Linked DNA regions of Homo sapiens. The protein of the gene in region 2 purifies or fractionates together with the protein of the main gene of each other region. This does not show direct contact. Each region holds a gene or a part of one and is shown on either strand. Other genes may lie near its edges.

Evidence for each region.
Region 1: the proteins of FCN1 (region 2) and PODXL purify together in Homo sapiens (affinity purification with mass spectrometry; 3 studies listed by BioGRID and IntAct, with this or other methods). This does not show direct contact.
Region 3: the proteins of FCN1 (region 2) and SEZ6L2 purify together in Homo sapiens (affinity purification with mass spectrometry; 3 studies listed by BioGRID and IntAct, with this or other methods). This does not show direct contact.
Region 4: the proteins of FCN1 (region 2) and DNAJC13 purify together in Homo sapiens (affinity purification with mass spectrometry; 3 studies listed by BioGRID and IntAct, with this or other methods). This does not show direct contact.

What each region holds. Positions count from the first base shown.
Region 1 is NC_000007.14:131,546,629-131,550,128, forward strand, and holds part of PODXL (podocalyxin isoform 1 precursor), read right to left. Parts: intron 1-3,500. UniProt on the Homo sapiens protein: Involved in the regulation of both adhesion and cell morphology and cancer progression. Functions as an anti-adhesive molecule that maintains an open filtration pathway between neighboring foot processes in the podocyte by charge repulsion.
Region 2 is NC_000009.12:134,902,732-134,905,322, forward strand, and holds the end of FCN1 (ficolin-1 precursor), read right to left. Parts: 3' UTR 501-2,591; downstream 1-500.
Region 3 is NC_000016.10:29,889,551-29,893,050, forward strand, and holds part of SEZ6L2 (seizure 6-like protein 2 isoform 5 precursor), read right to left. Parts: intron 1-3,500. UniProt on the Homo sapiens protein: May contribute to specialized endoplasmic reticulum functions in neurons.
Region 4 is NC_000003.12:132,459,002-132,462,501, forward strand, and holds part of DNAJC13 (dnaJ homolog subfamily C member 13), read left to right. Parts: intron 1-1,248; coding exon 1,249-1,356; intron 1,357-2,048; coding exon 2,049-2,204; intron 2,205-3,465; coding exon 3,466-3,500.

The sequences.
Region 1 (3,500 bases), on a different chromosome or scaffold from region 2:
GGTGAGAGGATCGCTTGAACTCCTGAGGCGGAGGTTGCAGTGAGTCGAGATCGTGCCACTGCACTCCAGCCTGGGCAACACAGTGAGGCCCTGTCTCAAAAAAAAAAAAAAAAAAAAAAAAAAAGTCTGTTTTGACTCAAAGCCCCAAAGTGAAGGGCAGTGCCCCCTAGGGGTGAGCTGAGGAGCACCAGGCAGGAATAGGAAGGCAGGGGGCGCCATCTCAGTGGCTTCTTAGCTAAGCCCACCCTGGCCACCTTCATCTAAAACTGCGGTCTCCAACTAACCCTGCCTCCCCGCACTGAGGCCCCCAGCCTGAGTAATGGGGAAGGGCCTTGAAGAAGAAAACCTGGCCCTGTGAGGTCGCAGAGGATGCTGCTCTAGCATGGCGTTGGGGGTGGGGTAACAGGGTCTGTTGACTCACACTGGGCTAGGGCTGACGCCAATACAAGAAATAAAATCAACATGCCAGGTGCGGGTGGCTCACATCTGTAATCCTATCACTTTGGGAGGCTGATTAGGCGGATCACCTGAGGTTGGGAGTTCAAGACCAGCCTGACCAACAAGGAGAAACCCCGTCTCTACTAAAAATACAAACTTAGGTGGGCGTGGTGGTGCATGCCTGTAATTCCAGCTACCCCAGAGGCTGGGGCAGGAGAATCACTTGAACCCGGGAGGCGGAGGTAGTGGTGACCCAAGATTGCGCCATTGCACTCCAGCCTGGACAAACAAGAGTGAAACTCCGTCTCAAAAAAAAAAAAAAAAAAAAAAAATCAACACGTGTGGATGCTTTCTGCACATCAGAGGCACCACCTACATGATCCTATTTAGCCCTTGCTATGGAGGAGGGCACAATACCTATTTTCCCGCTGGAGAAGCCCAGGTCAAGGAACAAGTCTGAGATCACAAGGCTAACAAGTGTCGAAGCTGTGGCTAAAATCCAAGCCTCTTAACTGCAGAGTCTAGGGCATCAGCAGAGATTTCCATTTTTCTTCTCTTCACCATCACAGCAAAATTTTTTGTCAAAGGAATTCTTACGTAGAGACCTATCATACGGAACAGTTAAAAGTAGGCCTTCGTGAAGAGGATGGACGTAAAACTCCCCCCAAATCGGCCTCCTCTTAATTTTCCTCTCCAGGTATGCACCCCAAGCCCTCAGTGGCCCCCAAGGCAGCTCCACGGAATACCACCCGCAGGTTTCAAAGTCACTGGCCCCCGGCTGCTGCTGTCACTGAGAGCTCATAGCCAAACCCCTAAGACAGTATTTCCTTGGCCCTGCACTCACCTGCTCTGAGGTGAGAGGGAGAGATGGGGAGCAGAAACACTTCTTCCCTATCCACAGGCCAGTGGGGGAACCCAGGTCCTTCCCCTCCTACCCTGCCCAAGGCCCAGCTTATGGGGGTCCTGGGACACCTCGGATCCCTGTTGCAGCTCAAGACCCAATTAGGAAGGAGCCAGGTTTCTTTGTGCATTACCAGAAACTGCCCCTCAGGACCAGAAGGCTACAGCCACATAACTGGAGGACTAAGTGGGACCAGGCTTCCTGAGAGCTGTGTTTCCTGAGAGCTGTGTGCAGAGGCGAAGCTGATCTGACCGGCAAGGTGAGGACAGAGGGCAGCTACAGAGACGTCCAAGGTTTGCAGGGACCAGTTCTGCAGTAGCATTTGCCAGTCACCTACTCCAAATATCCACTCTCTGCTTCCTCCTTGTAACTGAACCACTGTTTTTTGGGTAGGCACTTGGGTGCCTGAAATAAAAATTACTCTTCCCTAAGTTCTCTTTCCTGCCTGCCTTTCAGCTAGTGTGACCACATGCTAAGTTCTGTTCAACAAAATGTGACTAGAAGTGTCACATGTGGTTTCTGGGAGGCACACTCTAAAGAGGAGCCACATGCTTCTTGTTCCTTCCTTTTTCCTGATGGCTGGAACTCCAGCAGCCACCTTGGACCACGAGGCCACGTGTGAATGATGGCAGAACCACTATACCACCCCTCTGAAGTTCTATGATATGAGAGAGATATAACTGATGCCTGTCTTATTTAATCCACTACTCTTTTTTGTTGCTATGAGCAGCCAAATCAAGTTCTAACAAACACAAGCCCCAATCCTCAGCTGAAGGATCCTTTGGGTGGGGACAGCACAGGAGACATGGCCCCCTCCTGCTTCCTACCAGGAATCCCTGCTCCTTCCTGCCCATATGCCCCCAGGACCTAGGCCGGCCCCCACCTGCCACCTCTTTCTTGAATCAGGTAGCCTTGCATTTACAGAGCACAGGCTGGCAGGCAAGTTCTAAGCCAGCCCTGACACCTACTCACTTACTAACTCATTCATTCAACCTATATTTATGGAACAGCTACTTTGAGCTAAGTGCTATTCTAGGTGCTGTGGCTACAGCACAATGGAAGTCCCTGCCCTCATGGAACTTACAGTCTAACGGGGAAGAGACAGACAAACAAACAAACCAATGAACACATATCAGGTGACGAGTGCTATGGAGAAAATAAAGGCGAGTAGGAGGAAAAGAGTGTGCTGGGGGGGAGGGGTTTCTAAGCAGAGCAGCCCCGGTAGGCCTCTTTGAGAAAGTGGCATTCATGGGGAGAGCTGAAGGAAGTGAGGGAGTGAACCACGTACATATTGGGAGAAGAGCTGGTTGTATGATCTACTGCAAGTCCTTGCATCTGTGCCTCAGTTTCTCCTCTCTGGAATGGTCTGTGAGATAAAGGTCATGCAAAGGCAGGCTACCCCAGCTGGAGGGCTCTGTGGTTCCAATCAGTGTGTTGGGAGTAGGTTGGCATGGGAACCTGGCTGGATGGAGACCAAAGGGACTCAGTCCTCAGGCAGAGCTCCATGAATTTCAGGTAAGAAGGAGCTGTGGCTTCAGCCTCACACACAGCCAGTATGTTCAAAAATTACAGAGTGCCCTCCTCACCGGCTTGCTTAACTGCCGTCCCTTCTACTCTGATCAGGGTCAGGTAGCTGGAAGGTTAAGAAATCAGACAGCGTAGACCCCAGGTCAGTCCACACATCCCTAGGGGCCTGGCTCTGGGAGGTCCCTGCACCCCAATCCAGGGCCAGATAGCAAGCCTCTCTCAGCCGCTCCTTAGAATTCTCTTCCCCCTGAGTGGAGGCACATACATAGCCTTCTGGCCATGACAATTGGTGGACGAGGTGCCACCCTACACCCTGGTCCTCGGAAGTGTGAGGTGGCTTATTCCCAAGGGGAATAAGGCTACAAAAGAAGAGAGGGTGGTGGTGATATATGTCGGGGAAGGGGGTGGGGATGGTTGGAGGTGGCCCAGGGGCCAACCTTAGCTGGGGGACCCTCTTAGCTGAGGGTCTGTGCTTGCTGCTGCTCCAGCGATTCAGGGCAGGGCCAGGACTCAGAGACAATGCAAGAGCTTGGGATGCGGGAGATGTGGGCAAGGGCCACTGATGAATCTGCAGCTGAACGCTGCATTTTGTGCAGCCAATTATCCCGCAAACATTTCTTAACCACCTATTTGG
Region 2 (2,591 bases):
TAGTAGGTTTCAGTTAAACCTTATATATGAGTACATTATGTGTAAATGGTATAAACACAAAATTAAGGACATTAATTTTCAGATTGGATTAAAAAACCCAAATTATATGCTGTTTACAAGAAACCCAACCTCAACTAAAAAATATAGAGTTGCTAAAAGTAAAATGGGGGAAAAAACTTATCACGTAAAATCCAAGCGAAAGAAAATTGGAAAGGCTATAGGAATAACAGACAAAGTAAAATTCAGAACAAAGACTATTATCAAGAATAAAGGGTGCTATTACATGTTGATAAAAGGGACAATTCAGCAAGGACACAATACAATTCCAGAAGTGCATTCACCTAAAAATGCAACGTCAAAAATTGAGGAAACATCTGCTAGAACTGAAACGAGAAACAGATTAACCCACCATTATAGTTAGAAAGCTTATACTTCTCTGTTAGAGAATCTGTTAGTAATCAACAGAATGACTAAACAGAAAATCAGTAAGGCTACGAAAGTGGTGAACCAGGCTATTAATCAGTTTATTAATCTATTTTTTATATATAGACTTTTCAGTAGACAACAGCATAAAACATATTCTTTTCAAGTTCAAATTGAACTTTCACCAACATAGACCATATTCTGGGCCATAAAATAAACATTGGCAAATTTAAAATAATTGAAATCATATTAAGTTTGTTCTCTGACCCTGATAGAGGTAAGCCAGAAATCAAGAACAGAAAGATATCTAGAAAAATCCCAAATAATTTGGAAGTAAAAGAACACAATTTTAAATAAACCATGGGCCAAAGGAAAAGTCACAGAGGAAACTCTTAGAACTGAACTAAAATAGGTGAATTTTACTGTATTAAATTATACCTCAAAAAATCTGACTTAAAAAAAAATCCTCTCTGCCTTCCTGAATACTATGTCTAGCATTCAATCAAAACCCTCCAAGTGTGCCAAAAAACTAAGATTAAAAAGAAACAAAAAACAGAAGATAAGATCTACAGGCCACTGAGGTGTTTAAAATGTCTTTAAAAACGACTCTGACTGGTGTGTTGAAGAAAATGGAAGATGGTGAAAAAAATAGGTGAAAAAGTGGAGAAGTGGAGCCAAGCATTGGAGTCTACACTGGCTATTCTATAACTGAAATTAATAACTCAATCAATGGTTTTCTATTTATAAGCAAATTAGATACAGTGAAAAGCATTATTAGTGAACTGGAATATAGGTCAGCAGAAAATATCCAGACTGAATGTGAAAAGGAAAAAAGAATACAAATCCAGAAACTAGAACAAGAGACATATGAGACACGAGCAAACATTGGCCATTGGTGTAACTGAAATATCTGAAAGAGAAGAGGGAGTAGAGTAATAGCAATATTTAAGAGATAATGGCTAGCATTTTTCAAAACTCATGAAAGACATCAAGTCACAGATTCTATGAACCCCAAGCAAGACAAATTCAGAGAAAGTCTCATCCAGGCACCTTGTAGTAAAACTATCAAGGCAAAGAAAAAAAATTTTATAAATGTATTTTTTGAAAAAAGTCATATTACCTTCAGAGGAGCAACAAGACTTTCAGCTAGCTTTTCAGCTGAAATAACTGAATCTGAAAATACTGGACATCTGTATTTACAGTGCTAAAAGAAACTAATTGGCAATATAGAAGTCTACACCCAATCTAAATACTATTTAAAATGAGGCAAAATAAAGATGTTTTCAGATAATAAAAGTGGACAGAATTCATCCTCAGCAGACTTTCATCAAAAAATATATGAGGCTGGGCACGGTGTCTCACATCTGTAATCCTAGCACTTTGGGAGGCTGAGGCGGGTGGATCACTTGAGGTCAGGAGTTCAAGAGCAGCCTGGCTAACATGGCGAAACCCCATCTCTACCAAAAAATACAAAAATTAGCCCAGCGTAGTGGTGCACACCTGTAGTCCCAGCTACACGGGAAGCTGAGGCAGGAGAATTGTTTGAGCCCAGGAGGTGGAGGTTGCAGTGAGCTAAGGTCATACCGCTGCACTCCAGCCTGGGGGACAGAGTGAGACCCTGTTTCAAAAAATAAAAATAAAAAATATATATGAAAGGGAGTTTGTCAGGCAGCAAGAAGATGATCTCACACCAAAAATAATAATAATAATAAAATAGAAGAAGGAATAAAGGGCAACATAAAGTGTAAAAATGTGGTAAAAATGAATACGGACTGCACAAAACAATACTAATAGCCATTTCTTGCAGGACTTTAAATAAATGTATCATAGCATGGCGGCAAGAATGGCATAAAAAGCAGAAGGGAGTGAATGTAGTTAGAGGTGTTTCAAAGTCTTCATTGGTAAAGTGGTAGAAGGAATAATTTATAGTATACCGTAAAAAATCAAGGCTATATATTGCAATCGCAAGCATAAACACCAAAAGATAGGAAAAGAATGAACAAGTTATAAGCTGATAGAGGAGGTGACGGGATAATAAAAATATTCAACAAAGACGAGAGAAGATGAGGAAGGAGAGGAAAAGAACAGAAACAACACTATGTGGATGTCCACGAATGCCCAAATGTTGCTGGATGGGCCCACGCCTACACTCCTACTTGAGAGGTCCC
Region 3 (3,500 bases), on a different chromosome or scaffold from region 2:
CAAGGTGCCCTGTGGTATACCCTCAGCTCCTCAGCTTCCATCCAGAAGAACCACTTGAAACTTCTTTTTTTTTTTTTTTTTTTTTTTTTTTTTTTGAGATAGGGTCTCACTGTGTTGCCCAGGCTGGAGTGCAGTGGTGTGATCATAGCTCACTGGAACCTTGAACTCCTGGCCTCAAGCAATCCTCCTGACCCAGCCTCCCAAGTAGCTGGGACTACAGGTTTGTGCCACCATGCCCCGCTAATTTTTAAATTTTTTGTAGAGATGACATCTCAGTATGTTGCCCAGGCTGGTCTTGAACTCCTGGCCTCAAGCAAACATGAAACTTGTTGAGGAAATTTGACTATTTTGTCTTTTTGTTTTTGTTTTTGTTTTTGAGGAGAAGTCTCACTCTGTTGCCCAGGCTGGAGTGCATTGGCGCAATCTCGGCTCACTGCAACCTCCGTCTCCCGGGTTCAAGCGGTTCTCCTGCCTCAGCCTCCCAAGTAGCTGGGATTACAGGTGTGTGCGACCATGCCTAGCTAATTTTTGTATTTTTAGTAGAGATGGGATTTTACCATGTTGGCCAGGGTGGTCTCGAACTCCTGATCTCTTCAGACCTCCTGACTTCACTTTCACTGGGGGATTCATTTACAGGCCACTGAGTATTAAGATCTTTAAAGACAAAATAGTCTTTAAAGGCACAGTGGCTCACGCCTGTAATCCTGGCACTTTGGGAGGCTGAGGCGGGCGGATCACCTGAGGTCAGGAAAAAGACCCAGGCCTTGTCCTCAGGAGTCCATTGTCTACTGAGATGAACATAAGAACAACCTTCTAGAACAAAGTGGTTTCAATAAATGGTAGCTTTGGGAATGGCTGCCCATGCCCAACAGAATCAAGTCTGAATGCTTTAGTTTGACATTCAAGCCCCTTCCATAGTTAAATGCAGCCCAGCACATTCCAGGTTCAGGGTTGATCTCCCAAGACCGATATAGCCTACACAACACAGTTTTGTGACTCCTTAATTTTCCACCTCCATATTTTCGCTTGTGCTCTCCCCCTACTTTCTCATCTTTTAAGAGATCAGACTGGGGGGCTTATGTACCACCTCTTCCAGGAAGCCTTCCTGACTCTACATCTCTCCAACAGTTACTTGTTCTCTTACCTGTACACAGTCCTGCATGCATGATTTTGTCATCACATTAACCATTGTCTTTTTTTTTTTTTTTTTTTTTTTTTGAGAGGGTCTCACTCTGTCACCCAGTCTGGAGTGCAGTGGCTTGATCTCAGCTCATTGCAACTTTTACCTCCCGGGTTCAAGTAATTCTCCTCCCTCAGCCTCCCAAGTAGCTGGGATTATAGGCGTGTGCCACGACTCCTGGCTAATTTTGGTATTTTTATTATTATTTATTTTATTATTATTATTTTTTGAGACGGAGTATTGCTCTGTCACCCAGGCTGGAGTGCAGTGACACGATCTTGGCTCACTGCAACCTCCGTCTCCCAGGTTCAAGCAATTCTCCGGCCTCAGCCTCCTGAGTAGCTGGGATTACAGGCATGTGCCACCATGCCCAGCTAATTTCTGTATTTTTAGTAGAGACGGTGTTTCACCATGTTGGTCAGGCTGGTCTCGAACTCCTGACCTCGTGATCTGCCCGCCTCGGCCTCCCAAAGTGCTGTGATTACAGGCGTGAACCACTGTGCTGGTATTTTCAGTACAGACAGTGTTTCACTATGTTGGCCAGGCTGGTCTTGAACTCCTGACCTCAGGTGATCCACCTACCTTGGCCTCCCAAAGTGCTGGGATTACAGGCGTGAGCCACCATACCTGGCCTAACCACTGTCTACACTGGCCCAAGCCTTATTTATTTTGTGTCCTAAAAGGCTAGTCTATGAGGTCAGGAGTTCCAGACCAGCCTGGCCAATATGGTGAAACCCTGTCTCTAATAAAAATACAAAAAATTAGCTGGGCATGGTGGCACACGCCTATAATCCCAGCTACTCAGGAGGCTGAGACAGGAGAATCGCTTGAACCAAGGGGGCGGAGGTTGCAGGGAGCTGAGATTGTGCCATTGCACTCCAGCCTGGGCAGCAGAGTGAGACTCCGTCTCAAAAAAAAAAAAGGGCTAGCCTGGCTGATCAATGGGTGCAGCCAAGAGGCAGCATGGATCGGTGCAAAGACCACTGGATTTGTCATCAGGCAGACCTGAGTTCCAGTTCTAGCTCCAGAACTTACTAACTACATGCCTTTGAGCAGGTGACTTCATCTCTAGGGGCCTCTCACCTATTAACGGCAATAATAATTCCTATCAGGGAAGATTGGCCTGAAAATTAAATAAAAGAAACACGCAAAGCACCTGGCACATAGAAGCTGCTGAGAAAACGTTAATCACCCACCCCTCAGCCTCAATTAATGAATGACTGGGAGCCAGGGACTCGGGGATCTGTTGTCTGGCTGCAATAAACGTGCAGATGGTTGAGCAATCTACATAACCTTTGAGTCTTTTCCTTCCTTTGAGAGATAGAACTGACAATGGCCACTCTCAGGGTTTCTGTGAGAAGCAAATGAAACTAAGGTTGGTGAAAGGGCTTTGTAATGGGAAAGTTTGCTGAACTTGGGGTGAGGGGTGAAGGAGACTTTGGCTTTTCAGAGAAACTAATGAGGCCACTCTGGACCAGAGGCCCCAGCTAGTGCAGGTTGGGAAGGGCTGAAACAGGGCCTTGGTCCCAAAGGTACCCAGTGCAGCTGCGAAGCAGGGAAGACTGAGCAATGAAGGCCAATTTGTGCAATAGTCCTGCTTCCCCAAATGTTCCACTTAGCCTAAGGAGTCCTATTTTCAGTGCCCTGGGGAAGTGGCTGCTTAAAGGAGCCAGTGGGGAGCCATATCTTCAGATTTCACAATATCTGAAATCCAGCACTTGGCCCAGGCCCTCCAGGAATGCTCTTGCTCCCCAATAACCAGGTCCCTACTGCCAAATACACGTCCCCCAGCTTGCTGGCCCCCGATGAATAGGCACCTTTGCTATGCACACATGAGCCCCTAAGGCAGGTCCTGAGCAGAGGCCTCAAAAGAGGCTGGAGAGGACATGAGAATAGGATTCAGGGTGTACCCTGCATGAGGCACACAAGGCATCTGCGGTCAGCAGAGCTTTCAAGGAGGGCAGAGTGCGTGACACCAGCCAAGGCCATGCGGTGATGTGAAGGGGGCATTGGCCCGACACACAGTTCTCTCTGTCTCCATGAAGCATAGGAAGACAGTGGGGTCTGGAACAGGGCACTGGCTGGGCCCCTTTCCTCATGCACACATGTCTGCTAGAACACACCCTTGTACTGTGGGAAGGTTCCCGCACACACAGGTAAGCATGGATGTACACACATGTGCAGGTCATCTGTCATAGGTCCTAACAAATGCAGTCGTGCGTGAATACAGCCCCCCTTTCCTGCCCCCAGAAGTCAGAAGGATCTTTAAATTGCAAATCTGAGGCTTTCACTTTCCTGCTTAAAACATTTCAGGCCAGGC
Region 4 (3,500 bases), on a different chromosome or scaffold from region 2:
TTTAATAAATAATGATTAATTTTTTTCTGTGTTTCAGGTACTATTCTATGAATTTTTCATATATTATTCAGTCTTCCAATGAACTTTAGAAGTTATTACTGTTATATCTATTTTGTAGAGAAGGACTTAAGGCCCAAGTAACTTGTTCAAGGTCATGTAGCTAGTAAATGGCAGAGGAGGCTTCAAGCCCACTTTCTGGCTCCAAAGTTTATACAATTAACCATAGTAACATACAGTATTTGCTAAATGAGCAGAAACAAAAAGGAAGGAAATTCTGACACGTTTTGCAACATGGATGAACCTTGAGAACATGATGCTAGTGAAAGAAGTCAGTCACAAAAGGATAAATATTGTATGATTTTAATTATATGAGGTCAAATTCACAGAAAGTAGAATGGTGGTTGCCAGGGGCTTGGGAGGAAGGCAGAATGGGGAATTATTGTTTAATGATTACAGAGTTTCAGTTTGGGAAAATGAAAAAAGTTCTAGCGATGGGTGGTGGTGATGGTTGCCCAACAATGTGAATGCTTAATGCCACTGAACAGTGTAATTTAAAATGGTTAAGATGGTAACTTTTGTTATATGTAGTTTACCACAATAAAAAAAAGTAAGAAACAATGCTATGAAACAAACATTGAGCCCTCATTACATATTAGGTGTTGGCTTTGTATCTTACATGAATTATCTCATCTAAGCATCATAGTAATGTTACATAAATACTATTACTCCTACTTTACAGCTGAGGAAAATGAAACTTAGAGACTTATGTAAAGTAACTTACCTTGCGTAACGTCTCCCAGTTATTGTCAGTAGTAAAATTAGGATTGGAGCTCTACTCCTAACCATCACGCTGGAATGTTTTATACACTCAAAAGAAAATCACCCTGAGACAAGTATTTGTTGTTAATTTTAGTACATTTAAATGCTAAGTTTTATTTCAAATTTTAGTTATAAAATTCTGGGTGGGCAAATGTTTGCCTTTTAATAAGATCTGTGACTTTTGAGAGAGTACCTTTTGTATATGTTGAGTTAATTGTTGGGCAAATTATCTGTGAAGTCTGATCAAAATCATGGTAAATCGTCACTTCTGCCTGCTTATCACGAGTTTCCTTTTTGCCTTACACTTTAAAGGCAATGGTTTTTAATTCTTTCAATGTGTAATGAATACTGTTTATAAATGACTTTTGCGTGATGCTAGCACATGGGACTGCTTATGAATTATCACTGTTTTTTTTTTTTCATCAATAGCCCATGCATGATGACTATGACTTAAGACAAGAACAGTTGAACAAAGCTTCTCTTCTCTCGTCAAAGAAGTTTCTGGAAAACTTACTGGAGAAATTTAATTCCCATGTGGTAAGTTATAATTAAATTTGTCTTCATGGTAGATACCATACCATTATTGAAAGATATTCTAGAAGTGCCACGTGGATGATTTTTTTTTTTTTTATTGTAGCCCCCAGCTTTGGTCAGTATTGGTCACAGTTCAGCTTGGTCACTGATAATAAAATATTTTGTCTTAGGACTATATCCATTCACCTGGGAAGGATAGATGTCAAAGCCTTTAGATTTTCACAGGGATACTCCAAATTTTTGTTTTTTCTTTCTTTAAAAATATCATTAGGAAATAAACTGCTCTAAAAAAAATTAAGCCAAATCTTTGTTCCTCAGTCCCTGATAACAATTTTGGAGATGGGCATTCTATAGCATCTTGAAGGAACATAAGCAGATTGCCAGAGTTTTGCAAATATTGTCAAATATTATTTTTTGCAAATATTAACCTTTGTTATACACATTTGAGAAGTCTTGGTTATACTCTTGAAATTTGAATTTTAATTGTTCCTTTTGAGGTATGATGGATAATGGATTCACTATATGAGCAAAAGCAAGTACTAAAGAGTCATCCAACTTTGAACCTCATGTTGAGAAATTAAAGTCAATGTTGATGTCTGACATATAGAATAACAGAAAGGAACACATTATTGTTAAAATTTAACTGAAGGTCCCCATCTCTTAAGTCTTTAAGAGAATCTGTTGCATTGTTTCAGGATCATGGGACTGGTGCCCTAGTTATTAGTTCGCTCTTGGACTTCCTTACCTTTGCCCTCTGTGCTCCATATAGTGAGACAACTGAAGGGCAGCAGTTTGATATGCTCTTGGAGATGGTAGCATCCAATGGAAGAACCCTTTTTAAACTTTTTCAGGTGAGAGCTTGTATTTTTCTTGTCAGATAACAGTGAATTTAAGGGAACCGCTTTTAGGATCACTGTTTCTAAGATAACATTTGCATACTTCTATAGCAGAGGTGTCCAGTCGTTTGGCTTTCCTGGGCCACACTGAAAGAAGAGTTGTCTTGGGCCACACATAAAATACACTAACACTAACAATATCTGATGACCTAAAAGAAAAAAAAATTGCAAAAATGTTTTTAAGAAAGTTTAAGATTTGTGTTGGGCTACACTCAAAGCCATCCTGGGTTAGCTTTGAATAAATATAAGCATCCATGTAGGCTGCGGGTTGGACAAGCTTGATCTATAATATTGACGAATAAATGCACCTAGTACATTATCATATTGGTACATTTTGAGTGTACAGATTTCTTGGTGTTTCATGTAGAGTCCCATTGATGGGTGTTCACTGCTGTTTTGACACTCTGCCCATTTTCTATATCTTGCTTTTTTATTTTATTTTATTTTATTTATTTTTTGAGGTGAAGGTCTTGTTCTGTTGCCCAGACTGGAGTGCGGTGATGCAATCACAGCTCACTGCAGCCTCAGCCTCCCAGGCTCAAGTAATCTTCCCACCTCAGTTGCTGAGTAGCTGGGACCACAGGCACATGCTACCAAACCCGGCTAATTTATTTATTTGTTTTGTAGAGACGGGGTCTCCCTTTGTTGCCCAGGCTGTTCTCATGCCCCTGAGCTTAAGCGATCCTCCTGCCTCAGCCTCCCAAAGTGCTGGGATTACAAACATGACCCACCACACCTGGCCTCCATTTTAGTAGTGAAAAACTCATTTTTCTGTGGTAGGCCCAAAGTTCCCTTTTCTTTACAAATTCCCAAATGATAAAATGAGCTTTAGCAGGGCTCTTCATAAACACTGGAAAACATTTGTTATTTTATACAGTACTATAGTACTTATTAGATACATGTATGTATATATGATGTTTATATTTTTATTATTTTAGTATCATTGATATGTATCATTCAAATAATTATAATTATTCAAATAGATGCCTTCTGTTTCCTACTAATGTAAATTCTTTGTTTATGTGTCTGTATCTCTAAGGCTATATTGTAAAAATACCTAAAATATTTAACCAAACTGACTTTGAGATGTATCCTTTACTAATTTTGTGGCTTATACCTTGTGTAAAAATGTATACCCTTCTTAAGAGTAACAGCTAAATGTGTTGGAATAAAATTCTTTTTTATTTTTTGATACTTTTTCCCCCTCACTTTAAAGCATCCTTCCATGGCAATAATAAAAGGAGCTGGGTT